Regions from separate parts of the Homo sapiens genome. Here region 2 is linked to region 1. The links come from fine-mapping of genetic effects on gene expression. A gene starts in region 1. The other region holds a variant in brackets. All regions are shown on one strand. Distances are from middle to middle.

Evidence for each region.
Region 2: its variant is fine-mapped to the expression of EMG1 in whole blood (TOPMed, PIP 0.97).

What each region holds. Positions count from the first base shown.
Region 1 is chr12:6,968,767-6,973,291 of GRCh38, forward strand. It overlaps EMG1 (EMG1 N1-specific pseudouridine methyltransferase), which reads left to right and starts at 2,147. Exons shown (of 6, transcript NM_006331.8): 1 at 2,147-2,325. The coding sequence starts at 2,158. PHB2 (prohibitin 2) reads right to left here and starts at 1,898. Exons shown (of 10, transcript NM_001144831.2): 1 at 1,651-1,898; 2 at 1,430-1,514; 3 at 732-811. The coding sequence starts at 1,777. RefSeq lists enhancers at 1,822-2,424, 1,945-2,014, 2,105-2,284, 2,335-2,454.
Region 2 is chr12:7,005,498-7,009,497 of GRCh38, forward strand. The region is part of intron 1 of LPCAT3 (lysophosphatidylcholine acyltransferase 3); the gene reads right to left. Among named protein-coding and RNA genes, the nearest start is that of LPCAT3, 11 kb to the right of the region's middle. The variant CA/C (reference allele first, on the strand shown) is at 1,990.

The DNA of each region.
Region 1 (4,525 bases):
TGCACCCTCACCCACTGTGAAGCCTTGAACTGCAAACCCCGTCACCAGCAGAGCTGACTACTCTTTCCCCCTCTGTACTCTGTGCAACCTCTAACGTGGGCGCTTTCGTGCTGTACCGTAATCATGTCTCCTGTAAGGACTTGGGGGACAAGAATTGTGTTTAATGAATCTTTTATTCCCAGGGCCCAGTCTAGTAAATGAATAAGCGACCTGCACTAGGTATAGCACAAAGAAGTACATTACAGGTTACAGGTGAGCTACCTGACCCAGGGTGTATATGTGTGCGTGGGTGGGGAGGAGGAAGAGGTCTGGGGAACTCAAAGGCACGGCTTTTATGTATGGTCTAGAAGGAGAGAACAGGTGAACTAGTCAAGCTTAGGGACAAACTTCTCCAGAACAGAGTGTACTAGTGGATGTAACTGTAGATATAGTAAGTCAAGCAGTTAGAAAAAAAAGGCTTTAAAACAAAGCTTTGATCTAGGCAGTGAACAAGACGAGGGACAAACAATACTCTTATTGAATACACGTCAGGGAGGAGACAGTAAAAAGCACGCAAACACAGTGTGTTCAGAATTTGCTGCTTTGACCCCAGGAGGCAGGTATTTTTGTTACAGCTCTTGCAGATGTGGAAAGAGGCCTAAAGGCCTGACACTACCATATTCCCCTGGGGTTTCTTGCCAGCTACCTTGATCATCCCACCTGCCATGTGATTACCAAGTGCTCAGACCTACCTTTGGAGCCTGTAGGGGAGGAGATTTTTCGAGGTCTGGCCCGAATGTCATAGATAATGGGGTACTGGAACCAAGGGATCCTGGAGAGGACAGGGATAGGTATTAAGAGGCCACAGTTTCGGCCGGGCGCGGTGGCTCACGCCTGTAATCCCAGCACTTTGGGAGGCCGAGGCGGGCGGATCATTTGAGGTCAGGAGTTCGAGACCAGCTTGATCTACATAGTGAAACCCCGTCTCTACTAAAATACAAAAATTAGCCGGGCGTGGTGGCGGGCGCCTGTAATCCCAGCTACTCGTGAGGCTGAGGCAGGAGAATCGCTTGAAATCAGGAGGCGGAGGTTGCAGTGAGCCGAGATCGCGCCACTGCACTCCAGCCTGGGCGACAGAGCAAGACTCCCTCTCCAAAAAAAAAAAAAGAAAAGGCCGCAGTTTCACTAGCCTTGCCCGGTTTCCCCTCACCACGCGTTTTTTGGCCTGCTCCTCTCCACGACCACAGACAAGGAGAGATTCTCTTGTCCCTCTGGAAAACAACAGTTTGTATGCTGCTGGAGGTTCTCGCAGCACCCACTATCCTAGGGGCAGGGATGAGGAGGGTGGGAAAAGAGCAGCGTTGAATCCTGTTGCACGTCCGACTATAGCCACTGCTGGGTCGGCGTCAAGGGTGAAAGGTCAGGGTCAGCAGGCTCTGCCCGCCATTACCTGAAGTGAAGGCCCTCGGCCAGGATAGTGTCCTGCTGCACTCCACCGATCCGATTGAAGAAGATGGCTCTGTGCCCGCCTTCCACTGTGGGGAGATGGGTGGTGATCAGGCCAGGCCGCTGCTCAGAGGAAATGCTAGGCCCGTGGAGGGGCGCGGGGACAGGGCAAGGGGTTTGGGGGAGGGACTGGAAGCGTCCGGCGAGCAGGCGGAGGTTGCTCACCGGTGAACACAGATTCGCGCACACCGTAGGCCACGGCGCCGGCCCCCAGCAACAGCTTCAGGGCCGTGCCCATGCCCCGGGGCCCGGCGGGCAGCCGTCCCGCCAAGTCCTTCAAGTTCTGGGCCATGTCTGATCTTGAGGCCGGCGGCACTGGAGGTCAGAAGGGGGTGCCGGCCCGCCTCTACCCCGCTCCGGCTTAGGTACTGCACCCTTCACACGAGGGTTCGGGCCCGTAAGGCTGGCGAAAGAAAGGGCAGCGGAAGTGCGCTCCCTTTGAAACCCTCCCCCTTAGCCCACTACGGACCCGAACTTCGCGCACAGGAATCGCGCATACGGAAGTCCCGCCCCTTTCTGGAAGGCTGCCCTCCCAGGGAGGGCAGCGCAAGACAGCAAGTCATCTCCATTTCCTGGCCCACTTTCAAAATGGCAGCCGGAAGGAAATTTGTGATTAGAAGCCGCGCTGTTCTTATTTAAGAGCGTTAGCGCAACTTCCGGTATTGTTGCAAGATGGCCGCGCCCAGTGATGGATTCAAGCCTCGTGAACGAAGCGGTGGGGAGCAGGCACAGGACTGGGATGCTCTGCCACCCAAGCGGCCCCGACTAGGGGCAGGAAACAAGATCGGAGGCCGTAGGCTTATTGTGGTGCTGGAAGGGGCCAGTCTGGAGACAGTCAAGGTAGTTTGGGACAGGAAGTGGAGAAGTAGTAAATCGATAGGTTGGGACTCCGTGGAATGAGGGTAAGGGGCCCAGAGTGGATGTAGAAAGCAGAGAGGGGTGAAAGATGCTTTTGAAGGAAGGTGGCTTGGTTGGCTTTGCGTTGATTTGACATCCTGGGATGGTAGTACTCATTTTTCTTTCTTTTTTTTTTTTTTTTTGAGACGGAGTCTCGCTCTGTCGCCCAGGCTGGAGTGCAGTTGCGCGACCTCGGCTCACTGCAACTTCTGCCTCCCGCCTTCAAACAGTTCTCCTGACTCAGCCTCTGGAGTAGCTGGGACTACAGGCAGGTGCCACCACGCCCGGCTAATTTTTTTGTATTTTTAGTTCAGATGGGGTTTCACCATGTTGGCCACGCTGGTCTCGAACTCCTGACCTCAAGTGATCCGCCCGCCTCGGCCTCCCAAAGTGTTGGGATTAGAGGCGTGAGCCACTGTGCCCGGCCGGTAGTACTCATTTTCTTTTGCTCTTTTTGAATGATATTCTAGCCCTCACCTCCTTGCTTCCAATTGGTTTACCAGGATTCTGTGGTATAGTAGTCTAAGCAGAGGAAAGTTTCGTTCCTTGCGTCATTCCACATCCCAAGACAAGTTACTGGGCAGATGAGAAACGTAGTTATGTAGCCTAGTCTGCCCACACTTTTTGTAAGGGCTTCGTGTTTCAATTCATTAGTATCCATAGTCACCTCTCTCTAATATCCACCTATGATACACTGTCCAGACCTGGTTATTATTTAAAACTTTTACATCTGCATTTTTATCTATCATTCATCTCTTTCCCCACATGTAATAGAACCAGCAGTTCTCTATCTTAAAGCCTTGGGCAGTGTTCTTCCTCCTCCTTTCTCTTACCCGTTAGAACTAATTGAATAGGCCCAGAAGAAATCGCATTGGTTTAGAAGTCAGGCCAGGATTTTAATCTTCGTTCTAAATACACTTTTTTTTTTTTTTTTTTTTGAGATGGAGTCTCAGTCTCTACCAGGCTGGAGTGCAGTGGCACGATCTTGGCTCACTGCAGCCTCCGCCTCCCGGGTTCAATCGATTCTCCTGCCTCAGCCTCCAGAGTAGCTGGGATTACAGGCCTGCGCCTGTAATCTATTAAAAGAATAGAAAACATGATTATATCCTACTAATGGGTTGAAACTGTATTATTCATTCAAGAAGGTTTTTTTCTTCTATAACTAAGGGTGTCTCATGGACTTAGTTCTTGGTCATTTGTTCTTTGTGCTCTCTGTGACATTACTTCAACTATTCAATTTCAAAATCTACATCCCTTTTTTCGCAGACTTTTTGGAGCCATATATCTCAAGAATGTTGCTAGACATATACATTCCAGTGATACATAAAAACTTAACCTTCCAAAACTTGTATTTGTATATAACAGTTTGTTTTTAGACTTTTTACTGACCACCCTAATGCTCCTTGGGACTCCAAATTGCAACTTGGAATTATTTCTTTTAGCTGCTACAGATGTAGTCCACTTCTTTAACATCAAACTTCTGATGTCTTTTCCAGTGTACAGAGAGTTGTTAGGATAGTGTCTGTCAGTCATTCCCATCCTGCCCTGCTTACTCCAGAATTATTTTTGGCTTTGTGCTTGATACATTAGGATTCTGTGGTTTACAAAGCAGCTTCATATATAATCACTGCCCTTTAGTGTCTCAGCTCCCAATTTTCCTCAAAATTTCCTTTCTTCGTTTCCACTTTTTCTTTTTTGTTTCTTTTTTGAGATAGGGTCTTGCTCTGTTGCCTGGGCAACAGAGTGCAGTGGTGTGATGGTTCACTGCAGCCTCTACTTCCCTGGCTCAAGCAGTCCTCCCACCTCATCCTCCTGAGTAACTGGGACTGCCAGCAAATGGCACTGCGCCTGGCTAATTTTTTTTTTTTTTTTTGTGAGACAGGGTCCCACCGTGTTGCCCAGGCCGGTCTCAAATTCCTGGGCTCAAGTGATCCTTCCACCTCGGCCTCCTAAAGTGTTGGGATCACAGGCATAAGCCACCACACCTGGCTACTTTGTCTTGATTCCATCTGTACCTTTGCTCATGCCAGTCTTTCTTTTTTCTTTTTTTTGAGACAGGGTCTTGCTGGAGTGCAGTGGTACAGTCTTGGCTCACTGCAATCTCTGTCTCCTGGGCTCAAGCCATCCTCCCACCTTAGCCTCC
Region 2 (4,000 bases), 36 kb after region 1:
TTGAGGAACTGACAAACTATTTTCCACAAGTGGCTGCACCATTTTACATTCCCACCAGCAATGCTTGAGGGTTCCAATTTCTCCGTATCTTCACCAACATCTGTTTGTGTGTTTTTGATTATTGCCATCCTAGTAGGTGTGAAATGATATATCATTGTGGTTTTGATTTGCATTTCCCTAATGACTAAAGATATTAAACAGCTTTTCACGAGCTTATTGGCCATGTATATGTCTCTTTTAGAGAACTGTCTATTCATATCCATTTTGTAAACTGGGTTATCTTTTTATTGTTGAATTCTAAGAGTTCTTTAGACATCTGAATACTAGACTTATGATTTACAAATATTTTCTCCTATTCTGTGGGATAGCTTTTTACTTTCTTGATAGTATCCTTTGGTGCACAAAAGCTTTTAATTTTGATGAAGTCCAATTTATCACTGATCATACCAGCTGGAAATCTACTTTTTTCTATGTCAGCATCTCAATATTACTTGATGATCTGGGGAGAATTTTTGAAAATATAAAAATAATATACATAAAATTTTGATATAAAACAAGAGGGCCAAGACTTGAAGAAATCTGGAGCTTCTGTTGAGACGATGACCTGGGGTCCCAATGATTACTGTTAGGATCTTAATGTACTTAGTGGAAAGGTTGAGAGGCGCTGGCCTACGGCAGGCACTCCTACAGTAAGACTGAACCTAAACTGACATTGGTCAGTTTACTTGGGAAGTTGACCATATGTTTTTTGTTTGTTTTCTCCCAGGCTATAGTACAGTGGCGTGATCTTGGCTCCCTGCAACCTCTGTCTTCCAGGTTCAAGCAGTTCTACTGCCTCAGCCTCCTGAGTAGCTGGGATTACAGGTGTGTGCTACCACACCCAGTTAGTTTTTGTATTTTTAGTAGAGATGGGGTTTCACCATGTTGCCCAGGGTGGTCTCCAACTCCTGACCTCAAATGATCCGCCCACCTTGGCCTCCCAAAGTGCTGGGATTACAGGCGTGAGCCATGGTGCCTGGCCGATGGTATACATTTTAAAAATAAATGTATGCTATCTAGGAGTTCCCATGTTTTGCTATTATTTCCTATTCTTTCAGAGCACCAATAGTCAATGAAGAATTAAAAGTGAAGTCAGATTATCCTTTAGCTAAAGAATGGGGATTTCTAGTAGTACGGTTCAATATTTTTGGTCAGGGCCCCATATGTTTATACTCCAACTTTAATCAATCTTTTCCACTTCTGACTGAGGGATATGCTGTAGGAACTTTATGTGTACTATTTCAGTTGGCCTCTGCTGGCTTATAAACAGTAGTTGATATTTAGGGACAGTAATCCAGAGTAGTGTCCAAGTCCATCTGAGTTTAGAATTGCTACCACAGCAGAAATTGGAAACCTCGAGAGTTATAAGCCATTTACCACATCTACATGGATGCCACTTCTCCTTAAAGCATATACAAATATATAGAGATCGGAACTTTAACCTTCTGGGATCTAATATCTTCCTAAGATTTGCATACAGAATGTACACATGGATCTTCTATTATAGCAAATTCTTTTTTTTTTGAGACGGAGTTTTTGCTCTTGTTGCCCAGGTGGAGTGCAATGGCGCGATCTCGGCTCACTGCAACCTCTGCCTCCCGGGTTCAAGTGATTCTCCTGCCTCAGCCTCCCAAGTTGCTGGGATTACAAGCGCCTGCCACCATGCCCGGCTAATTTTTTGGATTTTTTTTTTTAGTAGAGACAGGGTTTCGCCATGTTGGCCAGGCTGGTCTCAAACTCCTGACCTCAGGTGATCCACCCACCTTGGCTTTCCAAAGTGCTGGGATTACAGGTGTAAGCCACCGCGCCTGGCCAGCAAATTCTTAATTGCCTGTAAAATTACTATCTCACTATGTATTATTTTCGGAAGCAGATATGACCGTGTACAGTTTTCTTATAAAAGTGCCATAGCAACATGAATACTCAGTACTGACAAGCATCTTTAATTGA[CA/C]AAAGCTTTTTTTTTTTTTTTTTTTGAGACGGAGTCTCACTCTGTCCCCCAGGCTGGAGTGCAATGGTACGATCTCGGCTCACTGCAACCTCCCCCTCCCAGGTTCAAGCGATTCTCCTGCCTCAGCCTCCCGAGTAGCTGGGATTACAGGCGTGCACCACCGTGCCCGGCTAATTTTTGTATTTTTAGTAGAGACAGGGTTTCACCATGTTGGTCAGACCAGTCTCAAATTCCTGACCTCAGGTGATCCACCCACCTCAGCCTCCCAAAGTGCTGGGATTACAGGCATGAGCCACTGTGCCCGGCCATGACAAAAGCTTTTTATTTTTAATTTAATCTTAGCCTATGGTTAAAGTGAAGCATTTAAATAGCCTACTTGATGACTTCATGTGAGCCAAGAACAAAACCTGGGTCTGATAATCTTCTACCTACTCTCTGACAAACTGTCCCTACAATTATAATGCAATGACATTTCTATGAGCAGCCTCTATTACTAACAGTTATTATACACTTGGTTCTTATACAGAATACTTCATTCAAGATGTCCAGAGCTTCATCTAGCTCACTATCTTCAAAGCTTCTGCTTGCAAAGGGAGGAACTTACACCATCAGTCCATTTTAAGCCAAAAGGAAATTCTTACCCAGAAATTAATTACTTATCCTTTTTTTAGTGTGTTACTCTCCACACCCCCTTCCTGTTTTGAAAGCAGGGAGAAATAATGATGTATACAGTATCTTCTGAACTATACAAATTACAGATAAGCTTTAAAGGTCTCTAGGAAGCTACTACTGTTTCACCATAAGAACTCCAAGTGGGCCCTAAATCTCCTGGTCCTTGACTTCAGCCACTGCTAGGAAAATGTCAATACACACACACTCCTATCTTAAAAACTCTGTGCTTGAGAAGAAGGATGGTTTGCTTTGATATTAGACTAGCTTTCCCTGGCAGCTGCAACTAGGGAACCTAATTTTTGTTAAAGCTACAAGTCACAATTTATTACTTATATTAAGAAACGTAAGGAGATCAATCAGGAGAATGCTATATTGCTTAAGGTGGTTGATGCAACACAAAAAAGATGGAGCCATTAGTCCAATAACCTTATTAAAAAAATTCCTCCTCTGGGTGTGGTGGCTCACGCCTGTAATCCCAGCTACTCCGGAGGCTGAGGCAGGAGAATTGCTGGAACCTCGGAGGTGGAGGTTGCAGTGAGCTGAGATTGTACCTCTGCACTCCAGCCTGGGCAACAAAGTGAGACTCCATCTCAAAAAAAAAACAAAAAACACAACTCCTCTGTATCTAACCTTCTTATCAAAAGTGTGAAACAGATGGTGTATGTGATGATCATGATAATGAACATAATAACAATGTGAACATAATAACAATGTGAACATAATAACAACAACATCTCTTTATTCCTCAGATAACATCCAGAGCAGGAACTCTGGAGTCAGGCAGAACTGAATGTGACTTTAAGCAAGTTACTCAATTTTTGTAGGCCCAACTTTCCTATCTGTCAGGCCTACAAATGGGAAAAACTAAACCATAAGGAATCTAAGAGTTTTGTTTATTCCAAAGAGTACAGGATACAATGACCTTTCTTTTTTTTTCTGTCACCCAGGCTGGAGTGCCATGGTGCAATCTCGGCTCACTACAACCTCTGCCTCCTGGGTTCCAGCGATTATCCTGTCTCAGCTTCCCAAGTAGCTGGGACTACAGGCATGTGCCACCATGCCCAGCTAATTTTTATCTTTTTAATAGAAATGGGTTTCACCATGTTGGCCAGGCTAGTCTCCAACTCCTGACCTCAGGTGATCTGCCTGCCTCGGCCTCCCAAAGTGCTGGGATTACAGGCGTGAGCCACCGCGCCTGGCCAATGACATTCCAAAAAGGTACTATCAGGACATCAAGTACTACAAAATAGGCACCGGAAGAAATATGCTAAATTAGTAATCCTCAAACTCTAGAGTAATAAGTATAACCTGGCTTGCTAGAACAGATTACTGGGCACT